Homo sapiens: one gene and its partners. The protein of the gene in region 1 purifies or fractionates together with the protein of each later gene. This does not show direct contact. Each region holds a gene or a part of one and is shown on either strand. Other genes may lie near its edges.

Evidence for each region.
Region 2: the proteins of ALMS1 (region 1) and CLCN3 fractionate together in Homo sapiens (co-fractionation; one large-scale study listed by BioGRID). This does not show direct contact.
Region 3: the proteins of ALMS1 (region 1) and NBEAL1 fractionate together in Homo sapiens (co-fractionation; one large-scale study listed by BioGRID). This does not show direct contact.

Annotation. Positions count from the first base shown.
Region 1 is NC_000002.12:73,387,661-73,392,872, forward strand, and holds part of ALMS1 (centrosome-associated protein ALMS1), read left to right. Parts: intron 1-5,212. UniProt on the Homo sapiens protein: Involved in PCM1-dependent intracellular transport. Required, directly or indirectly, for the localization of NCAPD2 to the proximal ends of centrioles.
Region 2 is NC_000004.12:169,692,711-169,697,922, forward strand, and holds part of CLCN3 (H(+)/Cl(-) exchange transporter 3), read left to right. Parts: intron 1-2,901; coding exon 2,902-2,982; intron 2,983-4,478; coding exon 4,479-5,024; intron 5,025-5,212.
Region 3 is NC_000002.12:203,220,008-203,224,129, forward strand, and holds part of NBEAL1 (neurobeachin-like protein 1), read left to right. Parts: 3' UTR 1-4,122.

The sequences.
Region 1 (5,212 bases):
TTGGGGAGTTGAAGAAAATATTTGAAACGAGGGGATGTATGATAAGTTAGGTGTTTCAGAAAGGTCAGGTGTATAGCAGAGTGTGGAACAGCTGTGATAGCAAGGTGGGATGGGGAGCAGTAGCCATAGGTCAAGGGCATAAATTAGGAGACCATTGCAGCATTGCCCGGCAAAAGATGATGAAAGTTTGGAATAGGGAAGTGTTGGTGGATACAGGGAAAAGTGGACTGATTTGAGAGATATTTAAGAGGCAAAATCATCATACTTAATAACGGATGGGATGTGAAAGGTGAAGTAGCCAGGTGTTAGGTTATTGTTTGAATGGTTGTGCCAATATTAAGATATGGCCAGATTTATGGTGGAGGTGGTGGCTGTGAGTGGGTGGTGGAATTGGTTGGGTGAGTCTTAAGATTATGAGTTTGGTTTTGAAGATTGAAGGAGAAGGCTGGGCTAGAGATTTCAAGTTGTAAGTCATTTACATAGAGACCATAATTAAAGCCACACTTGTTGACTAGGTCTTCTAACTTTTATTTTGTCCTGTGACTTCTTGCTTGAATAACTATTAATATTCAAACTTTATCTTGAAGCCTAGAGGAGGAGTTTTTTAAACAAAATTTTAATTTAATTTTAGATTTGGGGGTACATATGCACGTAATTAACATGGATATATTGCATAATGGTGAGGTTTGGGCTTCTAGTGAACCTCTCACCCAAATAATATACCTTTGTACGTGATAGTGTAACATTGTACTTGATAGGTAATTTTTCAGCCCTTCTCTCCTCCTTCTGGAGCCCCCAGTGTCTGTTTATTTCCATCTTTATGTCTGTGGGTACTTATTGTACCCATTTATCTTTATGCCTCTGTGTACCCATTGTACCCACTTGTCTTACCAGTGAGAGCATGTGGTATTTGATTTTCTGTTTCTGAATTGTTTCACTTGATAAATAGCCTCCAGGCTCCATCCATGTTGCTGCAAAGGACAGGATTTCATTCTGTTTATAGCTGCATAATATTCCACAATGTATATTAATACATACTACATTTTCTTTACCCATTCAGTTGTTGATGGACACTTAGGTTGATTTCATGACTTTGCTATTGTGAACGGTGCTGTGATAAACATATGAGCACAGATTTTTTTCTTTTTTTTTAATGGCGTCTAGCTGGTGTAGAACACCTGGGCTCAAGTGATACTCCGCCTTGGCTTCCCAAAGTGCTGGGATTACAGGTGTGAGCCAGTGTGCCTGGCTCAGATGTCTTTTTGATGAAATGATTTAATTTCCTTTGGAGAGATACCCAGTAGTAGGATTGCTGGGTCAAATGGTAGTTCTGTTTTGAGTTCTTCAAGAAATCTCCATACTGCTTTCCATAGGAGTTGAACAATTTACATTCCCAACAACAGTGTATACGTGTTCCCTTTTCTTCTCATCCTTGCCAACATCTGTTTTTTGACTTTTTAATAATAGCCATTCTGACTGGTGTGAGATGGTATCTCATTGTGATTTTAATTTGCATTTCTCTGATGCTTAGTGATGTTGAGCATTTTTTCATGTTTTTTGGCCGCTCGTATGTCTTCTTTTGAGAAGTGTCTGTTCAGTCTTTTGCCCGCTTTTTAGTGGGGTTATTTGTTTTTTCTTCCTGTTGATTTGTTTGAGTTCCTTATAGATGCTGGATATTAGTCCTTTGTCAGATGCATAGTTTGCAGATATTTTCTCCCATCCTGTAGGTTGTCTGTTTACTCTGTTGGTAGTTTATTTTGCTGTGCAGGAGCTCTTCTAGTTTAATTAAGTTCCATTTGTCTGTTTTTATTTTTGTTGCATTTGCTTTTGAGGTCTTAATCATAAACTTTTTTCCTAAGTATTCTTTAGGATTATTATAATTTCGGGCCTTACATTTAAATCTTTAATCTATCTTGAGTTAATCTTTGCATATGGTGAGAGATAGGGACCCAGAGGAGGAATTTTTAAGCTAACCCTCTTTTACTACAGCCAATGTGAGAAAATTATTTTCCTGTTTAATAATGAACTATCTTTTTTTTCCCCCGCCGAGATGAAGTCTTGCTCTGTTGCCCAGGCTGGAGTGCAGTGTCACGATCTTGGTTCACTGCAACCTCTGCCTCCTGGGTTCAAGCAATTCTCCTGCCTCAGCCTCCCGAGTAGCTGGGATTACAGGTATCCACCACCACGCCTGGCTAATTTTTGTAGTTTTAGTAGAGATGGGGTTTCACCATGTTGGCCAGGCTGGTCTTGAACTCCTGACCTGTGATCTGCCTGCCTCAGCCTCCCAAAGTGTTGGGATTAGAGGCATGAGCCACCGCGCCCGGCCTCTAATCGTGAACTATCTATGGGTAATAGAAAATCTTACTTCTGAGAGCCCAGAGTATTTTTTCCTCCCCACAGTTTTTTCTTTCCCCTGAGAAAAATTAGATATTTTCTTATTTACCTGAGAGAATATATGATAATATATAGAATATATAGATGATTTTCTGTATTAAAGGTAGATTTACAATGATACAAGGAGTGTTCAGATAATTTTTCCTTTAGTTCACTGGCATATTGAAACTTACTGGCATAGGTTGGAAAGTGTTTAAGGAAAAAATGCTTAGTATGTTTCTTGCTAGAAATTTATGAACTATGAAATTCTTAGATGTGTTGTATAACATCTAATGCTGCGTATTTAGAGGATGAGATCAAATAATAGGAAACATTAATTTCATCCAGTTTACTCTCAAGTTAAATGACAAAATTGTGTTATTCAATTTACTCTCATATCTCACTAGATAATAAGGGAGTTATAGTGGTGTTATATAAGGCAGTGATTAAGTTTGTAGTCCTGTTACTAAGGCTGAGTTAAACTATGATACTGTTTAAATTTGAAGCAAAATATGACCAGTCTTATAACTAAGTCTTTTTAAGAGGGAAGTGAGTGATTCAGAGCCTTATGTTGTTTTTATGCTGGTCCTACAGACCATTCAGGCACTTCTTGTAATTCCTTAACCTGAATTTCTGAGTTGTGCTGGGGAAGATAATTCAGTTCTCTGGGTTGGCATCACTAGAAATTCTTGGTCTCCAACTTTTAATTGGGTCATCAACAGTGCTTGGAAATCTTTTTTTTTTTTCTTTTTAAGATGGAGTCTCTCGCTTTTGTCACCAGGCTGGAGTGGCAGTGGCCCGATCTTGGCTAACTGCAACCTCCGCCTCCCGGGTTCAAGTGATTCTCCTGCCTCAGCCTCCGCAGTAGCTGGGACTACAGATGCGCGCCACCATGCCCAGCTAATTTTTGTATTTTTAGTAGAGATGGGGTTTCACCATGTTGGCCAGGATGGTCTTGATCTCTTGACCTCAGGTTATCCACCCGCCTCGGCCTCCCAAAGTGCTGGCATTACAGATGTGATGAGCCACTGCGCCCGGCCCAACAGTGTTTGGAAATCTTTAGTTTCCTCTCTGTCAGCTTCTTTCCCCATCTTCCCTCTTAACTTCTGTCTCCCACCCAGAGTTCAACATCCCCCCATAAGCAGGTTACAGTTTCAAAGAAGAGAACACAGGCTGAACCTCTCCCGTTTCTGCTCCCCATCTCCAAATTTATCTACAGTGCACAATTTATTTTTTTAACCTATTCATATACGTTTTATTCTTTTTTTTTTTTTTTTTGAGACGGAGTCTCGCTCTGTCACCCAGGCTGGAGTGCAGTGGCGCAATCTCGGCTCACTGCAAACTCAGCCTCCCGAGTTCATGCCATTCTCCTGCCTCAGCCTCCCGAGTAGCTGCGACTACAGGCGCCCGCCACCACGCCCGGCTATTATTTTGTATTTTTAGTAGAGACGGGGTTTCACCGTGTTAGCCAGGATGGTCTCCATCTCCTGACCTCGTGATACACCCGCCTCGGCCTCCCAAAGTGCTGGGATTACAGGCTTGAGCCACCGTGCCTGGCCTTGTATACGTTTTATTCTTAATATTAATCCTGTTTTGTGTTCCTAGGGTAAAAACTATTTAGTCGTAGTGTGCTTTTCTCTTGAGGAACTGCTAGATTTTATTTGCAGATATTTGATAATGGTTTTAAATGTTTTTCTGTTTGTTTTTTGTTTTCTTGGCCAGTATTTATCAAACTTGACATCAATATTATGCCATTTTCATAAAAGGTACTTGGATGATTTTTGTTTTTCTGGAACAGTGTAAGTACAAAGGAATTTTTCTTTCTTGTATGTTTGAAAGATATCACCATTTAAACTATCTCTGTATTCCTTTCAGGGTTGTAGTCTATATATGTTCTCCTTTCTTGGGTTAATTTTGGTGGTTTTCCTAGGAAATCATTCTTTTCAGTAAGGGTTTCTAGTTAATTTTAATGGAGTGCTACACAGTATTCTTTATTTTTTCATTTGCCTCTGTGGTTATTTTCACTTCTCATTCCCAATTTTGTGTAATTATGCTTTATTTTTCTCCTGATTTGACTAGGTAGGGGTTTATTTAATTTATTTTTCATTCAAGGACACAGCTCTTGATTTAAGTTTCTGTTGCTGTTTATTTTTTAATTATTAAAAATTATTAATTTTAATAATAAGTTCAGTTTTCATCTTTTACTATTTCCTTAGGTTTACTTTGATGTGTGTGTGTGTGTGTGTGTGTGTGTGTGTGTGTGTATTTCCTTGTGTTGAGTGCTTAATTGACTTACTTAAAAACATTTTAATAGCTTTTTTGAGATATCATTCATATACTGTACAATTCACCTTTAATTTAAAGTGCACAATTCAGTCATTTTCTGTATATTCATAGATATGTGCCATCATGATCACGGTCAATTTTAGAACATTTTATCACTTCTAAAAGAAACCCCATACACTTTAGCTGATATCCCCCGTCTTCCATTCCCCATATGCAACTATTAATCTACCTTCTGTCTATAGATTTACCTATTTTGGGCATTTCATATAAATGGAATGATATGTGTTTTTGTGACTGGGCTTCTTTCACTTAGCTTAATGGTTTCAGGATTCACCTGTGATGTGGCATGTATCAGTACTTCATTACTTTATATGGCTGAATAATATTTTATTATATGGATATGTGATATTTTGTATATCCATTCATCAGTTGATGGACATGTTTTTTTTCCTCCTTTTTGGCTATTATGTATAATGCTACCGTAGACATTCTTATATAAGTGTATGTGTGGACATATGGATTCATTTCTCTTGGATGTATATCTAGGAGTAGA
Region 2 (5,212 bases), on another chromosome or scaffold:
AGTGTCTGGTGCCAGTGTAAGTGGTGTGTGATATGAAAAATGCTATCCAGTGCTATGGGGAAGTTCTGAGGGCCTTTAGAAGCTCTTGAAGTTTAAATCAGAAATTCACATTAAAGAGATTACAGGAAATCCTTTTCATTTGATTGTTTAAGGCAATTTCCTTTACCATTTCTTTAGGCCAGCCTGAGATCTTCTACAAGACCTTGAAACCTTATATATATTATGGATTTCCTCTGATGTTTCCATATTGCTCTGGGCATTTTCCTGAATCCTTTATATTAGCTCTAGACTTTGGGAGCCCAGTCCCTTCCTATTTTCCAAATCTAAATCTACAGCCCTAGATGGTACAGAGATCTTTGAGTTTTTAAGATATGATTTTTTGAAAAACATCTCATTAAATACTGGCAGAACCTTTTCATCTTGTTGAGTTTTTTAATGTACTGTAACCAAAAAAGTAGAATATTTTATCAAACTGTTTAATCTTCAATTGAAATAATTCTAGTACATTTTAATGTTCGCATTAAAATATTGTCCTTGCATTGGACGTAGATATCCCAAAAGTGGAATACTTCAGATTGTCGTAGTTTCATCTCTGAATAATTGTGATTCCAGTACTTTATAACAAAAATAGCTAGCATTATTGATTACTTTCTGTGTATCTGGTACTGTGGCAGATACTTTACTTGGATTTTAATACTTAATTTCACAGTAATTTAGTAATATGGCCCTGTTATCCTCATTTAGTGATTAGTAAACTAGGGCTGAAAACAGCTAACTAACTTGCCCGAGACTACATACCTAGTAAGTGGTGGAACGTAGGTTAAAATTCATTTTTCTTTGACTTCAAAGTCTGTGGTCTTACCTACTTACATTACTGCCCTTACGACTATGTGGGTATATATTTGTGTGTGTTCAAAACAAACTCAAAACCATCCTGTAGCGTAGCAAGTTAGTGGCTAAGATGAAGCTAGAGCATTTGCCTCCTCAATTCAATTCCATTACTTTCTGTTGTACCTTTATATTTTTTGGTAAGACTTTTACTTATTCTAAGTTCAAAAAATGTAATTTATTAGATGTTTGAGAAATTAAGTTTACCTAAATTTTAATGTTCATACTGTAGTGATTAGTTAATGTTTAATACGTTGTTATTCTGTCACCTTAGTGTATATATAAATGGCAAGAATTCACGGTTAGTTGAAAGCATTAAGGTCCCATAGTTTTGTGTAGACAAGAGGGGAGAGCGTTGATATTTTTAAATTAAATGCTTCTTAGATACGTATGAAATGGATTAAAACATGTATATGAGTTATAGATACCTAGGTGTTAGTTTGGTTGTAAATTCAGGATCAGGACATTCAAATAAATATGTTTGCTTTCCTCTTAGTGGAGGAAAAAAAAAAGAAGCTAAATTTGCTCCCTTTCCTCCCCAAATAAGCAGAGTCTACATTTTAATGCCAACAATTTGATTAAAACAAATATTTATTTACTTTTAATTCACCAAACTTTTATAAAGTATTTACTGGTGCCAGGCACTGTTCTAAAGCACTCTGTATATATTTACTCAGTCCTTAAGAGCTAAGTAATATTATCACGTTTCCATTTTAGAGAAAACTGAGGCACATATAGGTTAGGTTATCTACCCATAGCCATACAGCTAGTAAGTAGCAGAGCCATGATTTCAACACAGCAGCCTGACTATGGAGTTCATGATCTTAACCATTTACAGCTTAATTTTTATTATTTATAATTTCTCTTCTGGAAATGTAACAATTGACCATTTGAAGAAATACTTTAGGTAGCTTTGGATATTTGCTGTATTAAAGTAGTGAAAGTAATACAGACACTTGGCTGGGCGCGGTGGCTCACGCCTATAATCCCAGCATTTTGGTAGGTTGAGGCAGGCAGATCACCTAAGGTCAGGAATTCGAGACCAGTGTTGCCAACATGGTGAAACCCCGTCTCTACTAAAAATACAAAAATTAGCCGGGCGTGGTGGCAGGCGCCTGTAATCCCAGCTACTCGGGAGGCTGAGGCAGGAGAATCACTTGAACCCAGGAGGTGGAGGTTGCAGTGAGCTGAGACGACGCCATTGCACTCCAGCCTGAGAAACAAGAGAGAAACTCTGTCTCAAAAAAAATAAAGGAATACAGACTCTTAGAAAAATAATTACAAATAAAACCCTAGTGAAATTATAGGTATAGTTAGGTATAGTTGGCTTACAGGTGGGAAGTAGACCATTACCAACTGATAGACTGGGGAGCTGGAGAGAGGACACGGAAGAGTGTCCTTGGATTTTTCTTTTCCTTTAATTTTTTTGTAGAGGTGTTGGTTGGTGAGACTGTAACTTGAGGAGCTGTTGTGTGTGCTTTCAGAATGAGGCTCTCTAGATTGATAGTATTTTAGCAGTATTTCAGAATGCATAGGGTAGTGAAAATATAGGGAATCTTACAAGGTCTTCGGTTCCCTGCATATCTTGCTACGATTTGGAATAGAGTATTTATGGTGGAGCAGTTAGCTCTAAAATTTGAAGAAATGATATCCTATTTAAAAATAGCTCCCCATCCCAGTTACTGCCCTCCCCTCTTACCTACACAAACATACGTCTTGAAAATTGTCTATATTCATTGCCTCCTCCTCTTTACACCCTATTCACATTAGTATATCTGGCAAAAATTTTTTTTAACTGAATGGTAAATGCATGACTGACCTTTCAATTAAAGCCAGGAGAAAGAAACAAATCTTAATAGAAGAAATGAATAGTTACCCTTTGCTTAGGGAGCAAGGAAACATGCAAGTTAAATTCAGAAAATCCATTTGGAAAATTCAAGTAACATGAAGAATTTTTATTTGGTATGTTTGAATTTCTATGAAATTATGAAATAAGCCATATCCTCTTTCTAGGTGCTATCAGCTGCCTCAGCTGCAGGGGTTTCTGTAGCTTTTGGTGCACCAATTGGAGGAGTTCTTTTTAGCCTGGAAGAGGTAGGTGAAAAGAATACAACAATTAAAATTATATATAATTACCATTACAAATATATTTCACACATTTCAGTTTTGTAGGTGATGTAATAGGTAGAGACTTTGTTTTCAAATTTATTTTTCTAAAGTTGTTTTCCACTCATTCTTAATAAAAAGTAAATGTTATTCATGCTCCATACCTGGAGGAAACTTTTTAAAAATTTATTAATGTATGAATGTTAGTAATTATTTAAAATCTAACTTTGTTGACATATTTAAAAGTAAGAAGATGTGAATTTGACTTAATAGAGGACATGTGAAACAATCTATTTCCATTGGCTAAATTCTGTATTTTTAGTAGAGATGGAATTTCACCATGTTGGCCAGGCTGTTTTTTTGTGGGGTTTTTTTGTTTTGTTTTGTTTTGTTTTTGTTTTTGAGACGGAGTTTCACTCTTGTTGCCCAGGCTGGAGTGCAATGGCGCGATCTTGGCTCACTGCAACCTCCGCCTCCAGGGTTCAAGTGATTCTCCTGCCTCAGCCTCCCAAGTAGTTTTTGTTTAAAAAATTTTAATCAATTCCTATGTTGTGTTTTAAAGTTTTTCCCATGTGATTATTTCTGATACAGTTAGTGATGTTAAAGAAAATAATTTTAGTGACTTCAGTGGATTATTTTGTTTTTGTTTTCTTAATAGGTGTTTAAGACTTTTCTTTTTACATAAAAATGTAACCAGGAATTTTTTTTTAATTTTTTTTGACAAATAATAATTGTTTTTGTTTATGGGGTATAATGTGATGTGTCTATACATGTATACATTGCGGAATAATCAAATCAGAGTGATTAGCAAATCCCTCAAATATTTATTATGTCCTTGTGGTGGTGAGAACATTTAAAATCCTCTTTTAGCTATTTTGAAATATATAATACATATTATTAACTGTGGTCATCTTACTGTGCAATAGAACACCAGAACTTATTCCTCCTCTGTAAGTTCATACCCGTTGACTAATGTCTCCCCTTTCCCTGTTCACCTCCCCAACCCCTAGCCTCTGGTAACCCCTATTCTACTCTCTACTTCTATGAATTTAACTCTTTTAGTTCAAGATGTTTTTAAATGTACTTTTTTCTTTTAGTTGTTTGTATTCTTTTTTTTTTTTTAATGTAGAAGAGGCAAATTAAATGCATTATAAGTTAACAGGAGTTGGTGATGGTACATTTATTTTTAACTACCATGATTGAATTGAATGTGAAACTCATTTTGAATATAAAACAGCACTAGGTATTCTATTAGTATTTATTAGACATTTATGATCAATTGATACTGTCAATTTGTAATGATGATCACCATCTCCAAAAATAATAATAACATCAATTTTTCTTATTACAGTAAAATCCATTACATGTAAATTCTAACTACAGCAAAATTTAGAGCTAGGATATTTACCATTCAAGTTATAATATATCAGAAACATCTTATAAAATTATAGCATTAATTTTTCTTTTCCTTTTCTTTTTTTTAGGTTAGCTATTATTTTCCTCTCAAAACTTTATGGAGATCATTTTTTGCTGCTTTAGTGGCTGCATTTGTTTTGAGGTCCATCAATCCATTTGGTAACAGCCGTCTGGTCCTTTTTTATGTGGAGTATCATACACCATGGTACCTTTTTGAACTGTTTCCTTTTATTCTTCTAGGGGTATTTGGAGGGCTTTGGGGAGCCTTTTTCATTAGGGCAAATATTGCCTGGTGTCGTCGACGCAAGTCCACGAAATTTGGAAAGTATCCCGTTCTGGAAGTCATTATTGTTGCAGCCATTACTGCTGTGATAGCCTTCCCTAATCCATACACTAGGCTAAACACCAGTGAACTGATCAAAGAGCTTTTTACAGACTGTGGTCCCCTGGAATCCTCTTCTCTTTGTGACTACAGAAATGACATGAATGCCAGTAAAATTGTCGATGACATTCCTGATCGTCCAGCAGGCATTGGAGTATATTCAGCTATATGGCAGTTATGCCTGGCACTCATATTTAAAATCATAATGACAGTATTCACTTTTGGCATCAAGGTAAGTGCTAATGTGAGGTGATATTTGGGTAATTTTGGCATGTTCAAAACTTATATGTGGAATGAGAGAGGTTGTTGTTTCATAAATGACTGAAAAAAGTACTTATCTTTTGAGTTTAATTTTAAGTAATGAAAAAGATAATTCCTTAGCATATATTGTTGACCATGTTATCTGTTGCTATTTAACAA
Region 3 (4,122 bases), about 130 Mb from region 1:
AATTAAAAATCACTAGATAAAATAATTGGAAAGAAGTACTTTTGAGAATTCTGGTATATTTAGATGTTACCCATAGAAATTAGTTATATATTATATAATGGGAGAAATGAACAGTATCATTGGAATGAAATAACAGGTGGACATTTCAATTGGTGAATATAGTATCTCAAGTTGGCTCTTACAAAGTCTGTTACCTGGCCAATTGTGGTGGCTCACGCCTATAATCCCAGCTCTTTGGGAGGCCGAGGTGGGCGGATCACAAGGTCAGGAGTTCAAGACCAGCCTGGCCAACATGGTGAAACCCTGTCTCTACTAAAAATACAAAAATTTGCTGGGCATGGTGGCAGGTGCCTGTAGTCCCAGCTACTCAGGAGGCTGAGGCAGGAGAATCGCTTGAACCCAGGAGGCAGAGGTTGCAGTGAGCCAAAATCGCACCACTGCACTCCAGCCTGGGCAACAGGGCAAGACTCCATCTCAAAAAAAAAAAAAGTCTGTTATCTTTGCAAAACTTTTTGTATGCTTTTGTTTCTTGATACTGGTGATGACAAAAATAAAAATCTCAGCATCCTGGTGATAGGAAGAGATTTATACCAAGATAATTATTTTACTTTTGGAAAATGAGATCAAGTATTAAAACATGTAATAGCTGTGCACGCTTAGAGAATAAAGAACCTTTATAAAATTTTTTTACAACTGTTTGCAATCAGTATTCTGGCATTACTCAGATAAAATTGTAAGAGAGAAAGAAAAATAGATCAGGGCATAAAAATCAGGAAAGTATATAAAAATGAAGTTTGGCAAGTTGGTTTAGTCTTTCTTTTTAGCCTGTGAAGCTCACGTCTGTTATTAAGTTAATAACAAAATTAAAATCTGTTAACTTTGTTTAGGTCACAGTGCAGTGCATCCTTTTGTAGAAGAAAAAATACCAAGTGTTCATTCTGTCATTAGCAAGGAACACCAATGAGGTTTCTTTTTTTTCTCTATTTAGGGCATATTAAAATTATCCTTCAGAGTACTTGTATTGAAAATCAAGTTTATGCTTCTGAAAAGAATAAGTGGGCTCTCAGAATTAGAATTCAGATTTGACGGTTGAATCTTAAGACATTTTATATTTTGTGTGAAAAGGAGTGGTCAGGGGAAACTGTTAACTTGGATACCAGATTTTTATTTAATGATGATAGAGATATGACCTTTGCCTTTATGTATATTTTATATTGTTACTACTAAAGAGACCACTGAGGAAATCTTGTAATTGAACTTAAGGAAGTTAGCTCCTTTTATATATTTATAAAATGAGTAGCATTATCTTTACCACCTTTCCACTGAAAAGATGCAAGTCCTAGGACTATATTAAATATAAATATTATATTATTAAATAATATATGTAATATGGGTGTCTGTTGGGGTTATGTGTGTGTAAAGATTGGTCTTTTCAAATATGTATATTTAAACCTGTCTTCTGGAAACAGGTTCTTGAACCTATCTTTAGGATACAGTTTTTGACTGGGATATAAGAAATGAAACATGTTTGTTTGTTTCCTTTTTGTTTGTTTGTTTGCATCATCAGCCATACTCATGGCTTATCCTACGCATTGTTCCTCTCATCAGCTGAAACTGTTTCTCCCCAATAAGTGAGCAATCTTAAACATTTTCATCACTCTTTAACAAAATCCATTCTCAATATTCTTTTTGCTGAATTCGTATATTGTATATGCTCAACATATTATTTGTTTTAAACTTGACTCCATCCAGAGCATTGTTCTATAGAGTTTTCCTGTATTTATCAGAGTCATGTGGTATTTTTCTTGATGACCTTAGGCAACAATATAGTGTTATCAGTCATCATTTTAATATGATTTAAAATGTGGACCACAGCCTGCCTTCTTTAGTTTAAATCTAGGCCAAGCATGGTGGCTCATGCCTATAATCTCAGCACTTTAGGAGGCTGAGGCAGGAGGATCACTGGAGCCTAGGAGCTCAAGACCAGCCTGGGCAGCATAGTGGGCTCCACCTCTACAAGACATTAAAAAATTAGCCTTGTGTGCTGGCAAGCGCCTGTAGTCCTAGCTGCTCGGGAGGCTGAGGCAAGGGGTTTGCTTGAGCCTAGAGATCAAGGCTGCAGTAAGCTGTGATTGCACCACTGCACTTCAGCCTAGGTGGCAGAGTTAGACCCTGTCTCCAAAAATACATTTTTTTAAATTTAAATCTGGCAGTTTCTAGGCCAGTGGTTCTTAATGGATATTACAGATCAGACTTCTCTGTGGAGTTTATAAATATACAGATATGTAGGCACTGCTTTGGACTTCATGAATCTCTTTGCTTGATATTCTTGGTATTAAAAAATTATGTCTGAGGATTATTATGTTATATCCTAAAAATTTTTCTGCATAGAAATTTGTCCATTTATCTTTATATACCAGATCCAATATTCAGACTTATTTGAAAATAGGCTTAATCATTATCCTGAGGGACATTTTGTCTAAAATTTGCTTGGAATGGCTTTATTATCTTTGTTTTGCCTGCCACAAAAACAACAAAATCTCCTTTCAATTGAGTTATTTTTATCATGAACTCTCTTTAGACTGTTCACATTTGAAAATTATAACTAATATTTGCCTCCAGAAAAGTACATCTGTTTGCTAATATTAGTTCCTGGTGACTTTCAGTGAACGTTTTGCAAACTTGAATTAGGCAACATTTTAAAGAAGAAAAAAACATGACTAACATGCTAAATTTAAAACATAAAAGTAGATCTCTTAGAGCCTTGAAGCTTGTAATCAATAGAATTTTCCTAATTAAAAAGCATTGGGTAAATTATCTACTACTTCCAATGACTTTTGCAGGTACAGCCTCTGTATGGAAATAATCTTTAATTTTTTATAGGTATAACAGAGAAGAACGCATTAACATTTAAGATGTTTAATTCCAAATAGGAAATAATTCAGTTTTCTGTGTTAAGAAATGTAAGGCCATCCTAGAGTATAGGAGTTACGTGATTTTCTTCTGTATAAAAATCTCATTTAATAGTGGCTGTATTATCAGATACTTATTTGATTATAGTAATTCATCAGACACATCTCCTTCGTTTGGTGATTATCTCATTGATCTTTGTCACACGTGAGTGATTTCTAAACACATTGCAGGATTTGGACCTGTAAAGCCAGTGGCTTTAGTGATAAGTAAAAGGGCACATTCAACAATATTTACCTTTGTCTTAATGCCCATAATCTTATGAACTGAAAATTCAGAAGGAAAAGAACAAATAGAAAGCTACTAATTCAATATTTGTTTTTCATGGTACGGTTTTCATGTTTCCTTGGAAACATATTTTGCAAATATAACAATAATAGTAATAACACAATTTTGTCATTTAAAAAATTACCCATTCATTTTTCAAACTTGACTGTTAGTGGAGGGGTATATGTGTGTCTGTGTTTCCACTTATGTAATGGCTGTCTCATTATTTAAATTAATTTATAATTATTTTTCAGTGTACAGAGTGATTAGCGGCTTGTAATGCTGTTACAATGTAGCATTGTAATGTAAGATGAAGAAAAATTAGGATTTAGGTGGGATTTTTAAAAATTTATCAATTCAGCTACTTTTTAAAAGAAGTCCTATTCCAATTGGACCTTTAAAATTTTTATTTTGGTAATATTTCAACTTAAGATGTATTAAAACTAGCAATTCTGTGGTAATCAGTGTACTAGTCAACATTAAAATGCTATTTTGGGTTGTCTTCTTTTGGTAACATATTCTGACACTAAGCAACATGTTTTACAATTTAGTGGGATGAACCTACAAATTCATAAATGCTTCTCTTTATTTTGAAGGAAAAAGATACTTGTCTGTATACGACATAATTGTTTTACTCTTCAGAATGTGAAAGTTATATTAATCACTAAACACTTTAAGAAGTGGTTCTGGTAGGATATCAGTAGTCAGACTTAATTGAAAAACTGTCAGCGTCTGTTTTGTATATAGGGATTAAAGAGGATAACTTTATTTTTTCCTTTGGAAAGAATAATTCTTTTGGAATTTTGGAATTTTGATTTTCTTAGATGACTTTTTAGCAATTTAATGATAATAATTTCTATTTTTCTTCCAAAACTATGGCATGTT